Linked DNA regions of Homo sapiens. The protein of the gene in region 1 purifies or fractionates together with the protein of each later gene. This does not show direct contact. Each region holds a gene or a part of one and is shown in the gene's direction. Other genes may lie near its edges.

Evidence for each region. Proteins that work in one complex are often made in the same cells at the same time.
Region 2: the proteins of ELMO2 (region 1) and ACVR1 purify together in Homo sapiens (co-immunoprecipitation; one large-scale study listed by IntAct). This does not show direct contact.

Annotation. Positions count from the first base shown.
Region 1 is NC_000020.11:46,395,679-46,401,099, reverse strand, and holds part of ELMO2 (engulfment and cell motility protein 2), read left to right. Parts: intron 1-2,328; 5' UTR 2,329-2,403; intron 2,404-3,080; exon of another isoform or gene 3,081-5,421. UniProt on the Homo sapiens protein: Involved in cytoskeletal rearrangements required for phagocytosis of apoptotic cells and cell motility. Acts in association with DOCK1 and CRK. Was initially proposed to be required in complex with DOCK1 to activate Rac Rho small GTPases.
Region 2 is NC_000002.12:157,738,139-157,740,330, reverse strand, and holds part of ACVR1 (activin receptor type-1 precursor), read left to right. Parts: intron 1-1,760; coding exon 1,761-1,891; intron 1,892-2,192. UniProt on the Homo sapiens protein: Bone morphogenetic protein (BMP) type I receptor that is involved in a wide variety of biological processes, including bone, heart, cartilage, nervous, and reproductive system development and regulation.

The DNA of each region.
Region 1 (5,421 bases):
AACCAAACTTACCCATGCCTCCTTCACCAAATCAAAAGCCAAATAACTGAACAAAAAGTACACATCCGTTCTTATCCTGAAAGGAATAGGGGGAAGGAGGGGAGCTGGAAACCTGGCATTCTTCATCCCAAATTCCTTACTAATAGGAGGAGATCATCTTTCACTTCATTCCTTAAGATTCGGTTTCCAATCCTGCTCTCAGAATCCAGCTCCGTGAAGCAGCAGTCACTGCATGGGTGATTGATAAAGCTCCATGGGGCTTCTGTAACAGTGCTGATTTTATAAGCACACCTTCTAGAAGCCACTTAGAGACTGCTCCATTGGAGACACTAATGTTCCTATTTTTCTCTACTTTTCCCAGCTCTGTGTTTGAAAAACTGGCCTTTCATTCTTATGACTTATAGTAAAATTGTCATCAGGTCAGTGTGTGCCTGTCTCCTGTTTTGTAGCATTTTGAGTTTTCCAAATCATCCTTATATCTGTAATGCTTAAAGAGGAGTGGAAGGTAGAAGGGTGGGGAGTTGTTTAATCCGGAAGGGGCCCTCTGGGCCTGGATATGGAACTACAGCTCCCTTATGCTGGTGGTTTGCAATTGAGCTACAGTACTGCTGAGTGGCGGAGCAAGAGGCTATTTATAACCCTGAGAATTTTGCAATGTTACTGAATTCCTTTGACCTAATTTCTACTTCCTTTCTAGAATGAAAATGAAGGGAGTAAGCAAACACGTGCTGGAAGGGTTCCCTATAAGGAGATCCTTTATCCTGGGAATATTATCTGGAGAACAGAATTATTTCTAGTCTCCTATCTCCTGATGTTTCTTTTCGATAGGGAGAAAAGCAGAGGGAGGTTTTCCTCTTTCTTTCAACTAGAGTTAGGGGTGCTAACCCTGATTTTTCAGTAAGACTTATTCTAATGTTTGATATGAAAACAACAGTTTTTTATTTTATTTTTATTTTTTAATAGAGACAGGATCTCACTTTGTCACCCAGGCTAGAGTTCAGTGACATGATCATAGTTCACTGCAGCCTCGAACTCCTGGGCTCAAGCAACTCTCCTGCCTCAGCCTCCTGAGTAGCTAGGGACTACAGGCACACGCCACCATGCCCAGCTAATTTTTATTTTTTGTAGAGAAATGTCTCGAACTCCTGGCCTGAAGTGATCCTCCTGCCTTGACCTCCCAAAGCATTGGGATTACAGGTGTGAGCCACTGCGCCCAGCCAAAACAAACTGTTAAACAATGGAAATACTGTGTAGTTAGAGGGTATTGGGACGCAGAGGGAACACCAGACAGCCTGCACAGTTCATGCCTGTCCCTGTCTGTTTGGAGCCAGCCTGGTTCACAGGAGTGGAAGAAATCAGAGCCATTGGGTTTAAGCAGACACAGGTGCTTACTGAGCCTTCACTGGACACCAAGTGCTGTGCTAGGTTATGAGACTGCAGAGTTATACCTGTTCTGGAGGAGGAGCTAGTGGAGATGTGTAAATATGTAACTGTAATAGAGTATGACAAAATCGTACTCATTAACGGAAGTATGAACAGGATGCTGTGAGAACACAGAGGCCCCTGTCCTATTTACTTTTGCCAGGGAAAGTAGAGAAAGCTAAGACTAGTACAAGGAGGAGGTAACATCCGAACTAGGCTCTGATGCTTGAATAGGAGCTCTTCTGACAGTCAGTAGGAGGAAGAGAATGTGCAAAGGTACAGAAGAATTGAAAGAACATGGCCTGCCTTATAGAAATAGCCCGTAGTCCAGGATGGCTAGATTGTAAAGGACCAAATAGCACACGAGGGAGTGTGGCCCACCTGTAGACAGTGGAGAGCTGTCTTCTGTTACAATGGTGAGTTCTTGCTGTGAAGGTTTCTTAGCCTCAGTGTGCTTTGGTTTCAGATACACAAACCAGAAATCTCCACAAAGCACCTGCTGCGGGTCAGGTGCAGAGCCACCTGCTTTCTCATGGCTTTCCAGCAACACCAGACAACCTGGTATCAAATTCTGGCTGTGCCACTTGCTAGCTATGTGACACTGAGCCTTCTACTTAACTCCTCTGTGCCTCCATTTTCTTATCTCTAAGGTGGGGATAATAACATACCACACAGCATTGCTGTGTGGATTAAATGAATTAATATATGTAAAGCCCTTAAAATAGTGCCTTAGCATTATGTAATTGCTAGCTAATGTCATCATCTAAGGAAGTATTATATAGAGCGATGAGAACTCGCTTTGGAGTCCTAAGACCTAGGCTTGAGACCCAGTTCTGATGTGTTGGGTTGATTTAGTTTTATTTCTTTTCCCTCCCTTCATTTTTTTTCTTTCCTTCCTTCTTTTAGGAGGGAGGTGTAGAAAGAGGTACATGGAGAACAAGTTTGTCAATCCGTCTGAACTTCAGTTGCCTTACCTGTAAGGTAGGAATGTTTTTCAGAGTTCTTATGAGCATCAACTATAATAATGATATAGAAGTGAGCAATCAACTATAAAGAGGCTACCTGGGCTGGGCACAGTGGCTCACGCCTGTAATCCCAGCACTTTGAGAGGCCGAGGCAGATGGATCACCTGAGGTCAGGAGTTCAAGACCAGCCTGGCCAACATGGTGAAACCCCGTCTCTACTAAAAATACAAAAATTAGCTGGGCGTGGTGGTGAGTATCTGTAATTCCAGCTACTCAGGAAGCTGAGGCAGGAGAATCGCTTGAACCCAGGAGACAGAGGTTGAAGTGAGCTGAAATCATGCCATTGCACTTCAGCCTAGGCGACAAGAGCAAGACTCCATCTTTTAAAAAAAATTTAAAAAAATAAAAATAAAGAGGCTACCTGTACGTTACTACTAGATATATGATTACTATGAAGTTACCATATAACCGATCTGTTTCAAACAAATCAGACTTATCTAGTGGGTAAGAGCAAACCCATGGGTTTTGCTCTCATTAATTCAGCCATTGTTAATTAAGTGCTTACCCAGTACCATCATCATATGCTAGTGATGCTGCTGTCTGCTCAGACCTCCGTTTTAGAGTTCCTGCAGAGCTTGGGGGCAGCTGTGGTCTTAGGCGTATTAGTTGCAATGAGTAGAAACATAGACTAGCTTAATTTATAGGAGTTTTATTGGCAGGATACAGTGGACTTTCAGGTACCCCGAGCATAGGAAGTAATAGCCACATAATCTGGAAAGTTAGCAGGTAATGGCTTTTCCATCTCTTTCTGATTTCTGGCCTCAGTTCATTTAGATATTTATGGATTCCTCCTGCAGAATCACTTCCTCTGAAAGGCTCTTGGTTTTTTATTCTCCATATCTTTGGCTCGTACGGATCTTTGGCTTGCCATGGTATTCGCTCTGAAGCTTACTATGATCTTACTTCTCCAGGGTCATTATCACCCAGTTCCCTTAGTCTGTGTCTTTTATTTGTTTGTATGTATGTATGTGTGTATTTATTTATGATGGAGTCTCATTCCGTCGCCCAGGCTGGAGCGTAATGGTGCAATCTGTGCTCACTGAAACCTCCGCCTCCTGGGTTCAAGCTGTCCTCCCTGCCTCAGTCTCCCGAGTAGTTGGGATTACAGGCGCCCACCATCATGCCTGGCTACTTTTTGTATTTTTACTAGAGACGGGGTTTTGCCATGTTGGCCAGGGTGGTCTCAAACTCCTGACCTCAGGCGATCCACCCACCTTGGCCTCCCAAAGTGCTGCGATTATAGACATGAGCCACCACGCCCAGCCAGTCTCTGTCTTTTAAATTCAAGAGAAAGAACTGGAATAGTTCAGCTAAAGTTGGGTATTCACTTTAGTCCCATCAGCTATGGCAGGGTTGTGGAGAGTGTCATTCAGTTCAGAGAGGCTGCCTGGGCTTTGTGGGAAGGACAGAGTCACTGAGAATGGGGGCTTATTAATATCTTTCAAATAGTTTGGTGGTTGCAAATCTCCATGCTTTAAAATGTATACGAATTTTTGAACAGCCGAGAATCATTCAGGGCTAACTTTAATAAAGAGAGAGTCAATCTAGGATATGTCATATGGGGTCAAGAGAAAATAATAGCTATAACCTAATGAGCTTTAGCTTAATCTCCAAAGACGGCGTTCAGAAAGGAGTTAAAAATCATGGGGTTTGTTTCTTAGCAGCACCATCGAAATTAAGGAAGGGTGTAACTTCATTTGGTAAGGACTTTAAAATGGGCATCCTCACTTGGATTTTTTAAATTCCACTTAAGAATCATGGACTTTTAGACTTAGAAGGCACCTGAGACATGCTTTAGTTCTACACTCACATCTTTCAATAGAAGAAAACTGAGATTTGGTTAAAGGGCCATGTATACATTGTGAAAGACCTAGGATTGGGTCCTGAGGCCTTTGGTTCTAAATCCAGTCACTTGTTTCAGCAGGGACAATTATCCCAGCCCAGTGTTCTTTCTGTTGTACCTTCTGTGCCTGCTTATTTTAAAAATAAGAAGAAGCCAAACTAAACAAATGATCTAAAAAGTCATATCGTATAGTTCCATTTATATGAAGTACAAAACCAGGCAAAACTCATGGATGATGATAAGTCAGAAATTCCCCTTTAAAGGACTGGAAGGATTGACGGGAAGAGGAAGTATGAAGTAATTTTCTAGGGTGATGAAAATGTTCAGTGTCTCGTTTTGAGTGCTGGTTACAGGGAGATGCATGTGTATATTTATATGATGTATATTTATATATACAAACATATGTACCCTTAAGCCCTCTGCATTTTATTGTATGTAAATTATATCTCAGTTTTTAAAATTGACCTCACAACCGTGCAGTCCTGTCTACTAATTGCAGCAGCTTTGCCGATAAGGATAAGGATGCATCTCTAAGCATCCAGAGATTGATGGCGCCACCCCTAGAACAAGAACTCCCTGTCTTGCTGTAACTGGAGCAGAGCATTTTCCCCAGAAATTATGCAGATAGGGCCAGTTTCTTTTCTGAGGTTTGTCGTGTGTCTAGGCACATAAAAATTACATGTGAAAAATTCTGCCATGAGCTGCAGAAGTTATGGAAGCCTTGGGGGCCATAAGGCCAACCCACTTCAATCCCTTTAGGCTGCGTTTAATTGCAGTGGACAGAAGTTGAGGCTGGCTCAAAGGAAAAGGGGAAAGCATTGGCCGAAGCCAGTCCAAGTTCTGTCAACCGTTATGACTTACTAGCTGGGTGACCTTGGGCACTTAACAAAACACTGAGCTTTAGTTGTGCCATCTTCAAATGGAGGTGATAATCCTGTTCTGCCTAATTCGTGGGGCTGCTGGGAGGACACAATAAAATAAGTGAAAGCACTTGGAAAACTAGTTCCTTTACATTGTCATGTTCTGGAAATGCTGGCTTTTTATGACAGTAGACTTCTGAAGCATCCCATTCTGACTAGGAAATGGTCATGAAAGCATCCCTCTTTCTGAGGCCGATGGGCTTGTGGGGGA
Region 2 (2,192 bases), on another chromosome or scaffold:
AAGATTTCTGAGAGTAGCAGTTTATACCCAATATGATGTTTATGATTTGCCAGGAAAGGTTTTAATCCACTGACTGATATGCATTTCAAATGCAGTTACACAATGTGGGTAAGTTATTTGGAATTAACTAGTTTTTTTTTTTTTTTGAGACAGAATCTCACTCTGTCACCCAGGCTGGAGTGCAGTGGTCTGATCTTGGCTCATTGCAACATCCACCTCCCGGGTTCAAGCAAATCTTGTGCCTCAGCCTCCTGAGTTAGCTGGAACTACAGGCACGCGCCAACACACCCGGCTAATTTTTGTATTTTTAGTAGAGACAGGGTCTTGCCATGTTGCCCAGGCTTGTCTCGAACACTGACCTCAAGTGGTCCACCCACCACGACCTCCCAAAGTGCTGAGATTACAGGCGTGAACGACCACACCCAGCCTAGATTTTTAAAAAATATAATTTAGACTTGTTTCCATCTCAAATATAAACCTTTATTTAGCCAAATTTGTGAAGTTTTAAAAAGATATGTAGCATTTCTTGAAAAGATGCTCCTTATATCTAATCTTTTGCATAAATGGTTTGTATTTGTATGGAATTTGTAAGGATGGATTCCCACTGTTGAGTAATTTCTGTGATAAATGAAAAGGGAATTGAAGCTTTTCAGGTGGCTTGTAGGAACTAGAACAACCGAATTACAACTTTCCTCACACTCCTTCTGTCGCCTCCAACAACTTCTTAGGTATTTAGGAATAGAAGAAAGTCGCCTGGAGGAAGAAAAGAGAGCAGTAAACCAAGTTATTACCTCATTGTTTGAACCCTTTGTTGAGGGAAAGGAAATAATAGATGTCTTGGTTTTATTTCTATGAAGGGGAAGAATCCATTTTCTAATTCCAAATGATGAAGTTAAAAATTTTTCTGTTTAAGGAGTTGATATAATTCTGCTGGAAAAGAAAAAGTTTCCAGGCCATTGGAAATCATGCAGGGGCAGAAGCTGGTATTAGCTACTGTTCATATTTGCTTTTGGGCAGAGGAAGAGTTCATTATTTATCCTTCTTTTCCTCTGCCTTCCCACATGGCTATCCTCTTTACATTTTATTTTGTGCCTTCAATATGATAGTAAATAATAGAGCCATCAGTCAGACAGCTGTGCCTGTAGTTAGAGGGTACTCAGTACATGTAGAATGAATGAATGAGGAAATGAGTATTTCCTATGATATTATTTGCATCCCTCCTAATGGAAGAGATTAATTTATAGCAATGTTTTTCTTAACAAAATACTTTTCTAACAAAGAAAGGGGTATTTTGATGATGGTCTTGGTTTATTACTCCCTAGCTCTAGTTTGTGGACAACTTTTTATTTCTATTTATGGTTTGAAACCACTAGATTCAGGTACTTTCCATAGGTAGCTTGGGTGGTTTTTATCACCAAAGGAATTTTTGTTCTATGTCTCCAGTGCCCTGTTGGGCGTTACAGAGCTGTTAATATACACTGTTGGAGAATTTTGCTAATAGTTATGATTACATGAGAAGTTTTCACGTATTTCCTTCTAACAATTATCCTTCTTCCAATACCATGCAGGGTGTGTATTTATTGCCTTTTTCTCCCACCTGTTTTAGGACCTACCTCTAGCTTCCAGGACTGCCCTGAGGTATGAGGAAGGTGATTAGTATTTTCTTCTGTCACATTATAACCTGTGACACCCATCAATGAAACCTTGGGGCAACCTGTACTCTCTTGCTAACCGAACACAATTCTTGTCCTTGTGTGCAGGTATAGTGGAGGATTACAAGCCACCGTTCTACGATGTGGTTCCCAATGACCCAAGTTTTGAAGATATGAGGAAGGTAGTCTGTGTGGATCAACAAAGGCCAAACATACCCAACAGATGGTTCTCAGACCCGGTAAGAATGCCAGTTTCTCAGTTTTAGAGCTCTTTTCCATTGTTTGCTATTTGTTTCCCTTTGAGTTTCAACTGGTATTGCATCTGAGTGATCTGTCCCGTGGATCTGTTGTTTTCTCTTCCTATTTTATATAGAAGGGTTTAGATCTAGAAGAGTAAGTTCAGAAAAATACTCCATTCTTGAAGAAGCCATATCTCATAGGGGTTGCTAGTGAATGACAATATTTGTAAGAATTTCTGTGAATATGCAGCTTCAGGAATCGGGAGACTCATGACTACTGCTATTAGCCCTAAGACTGCAT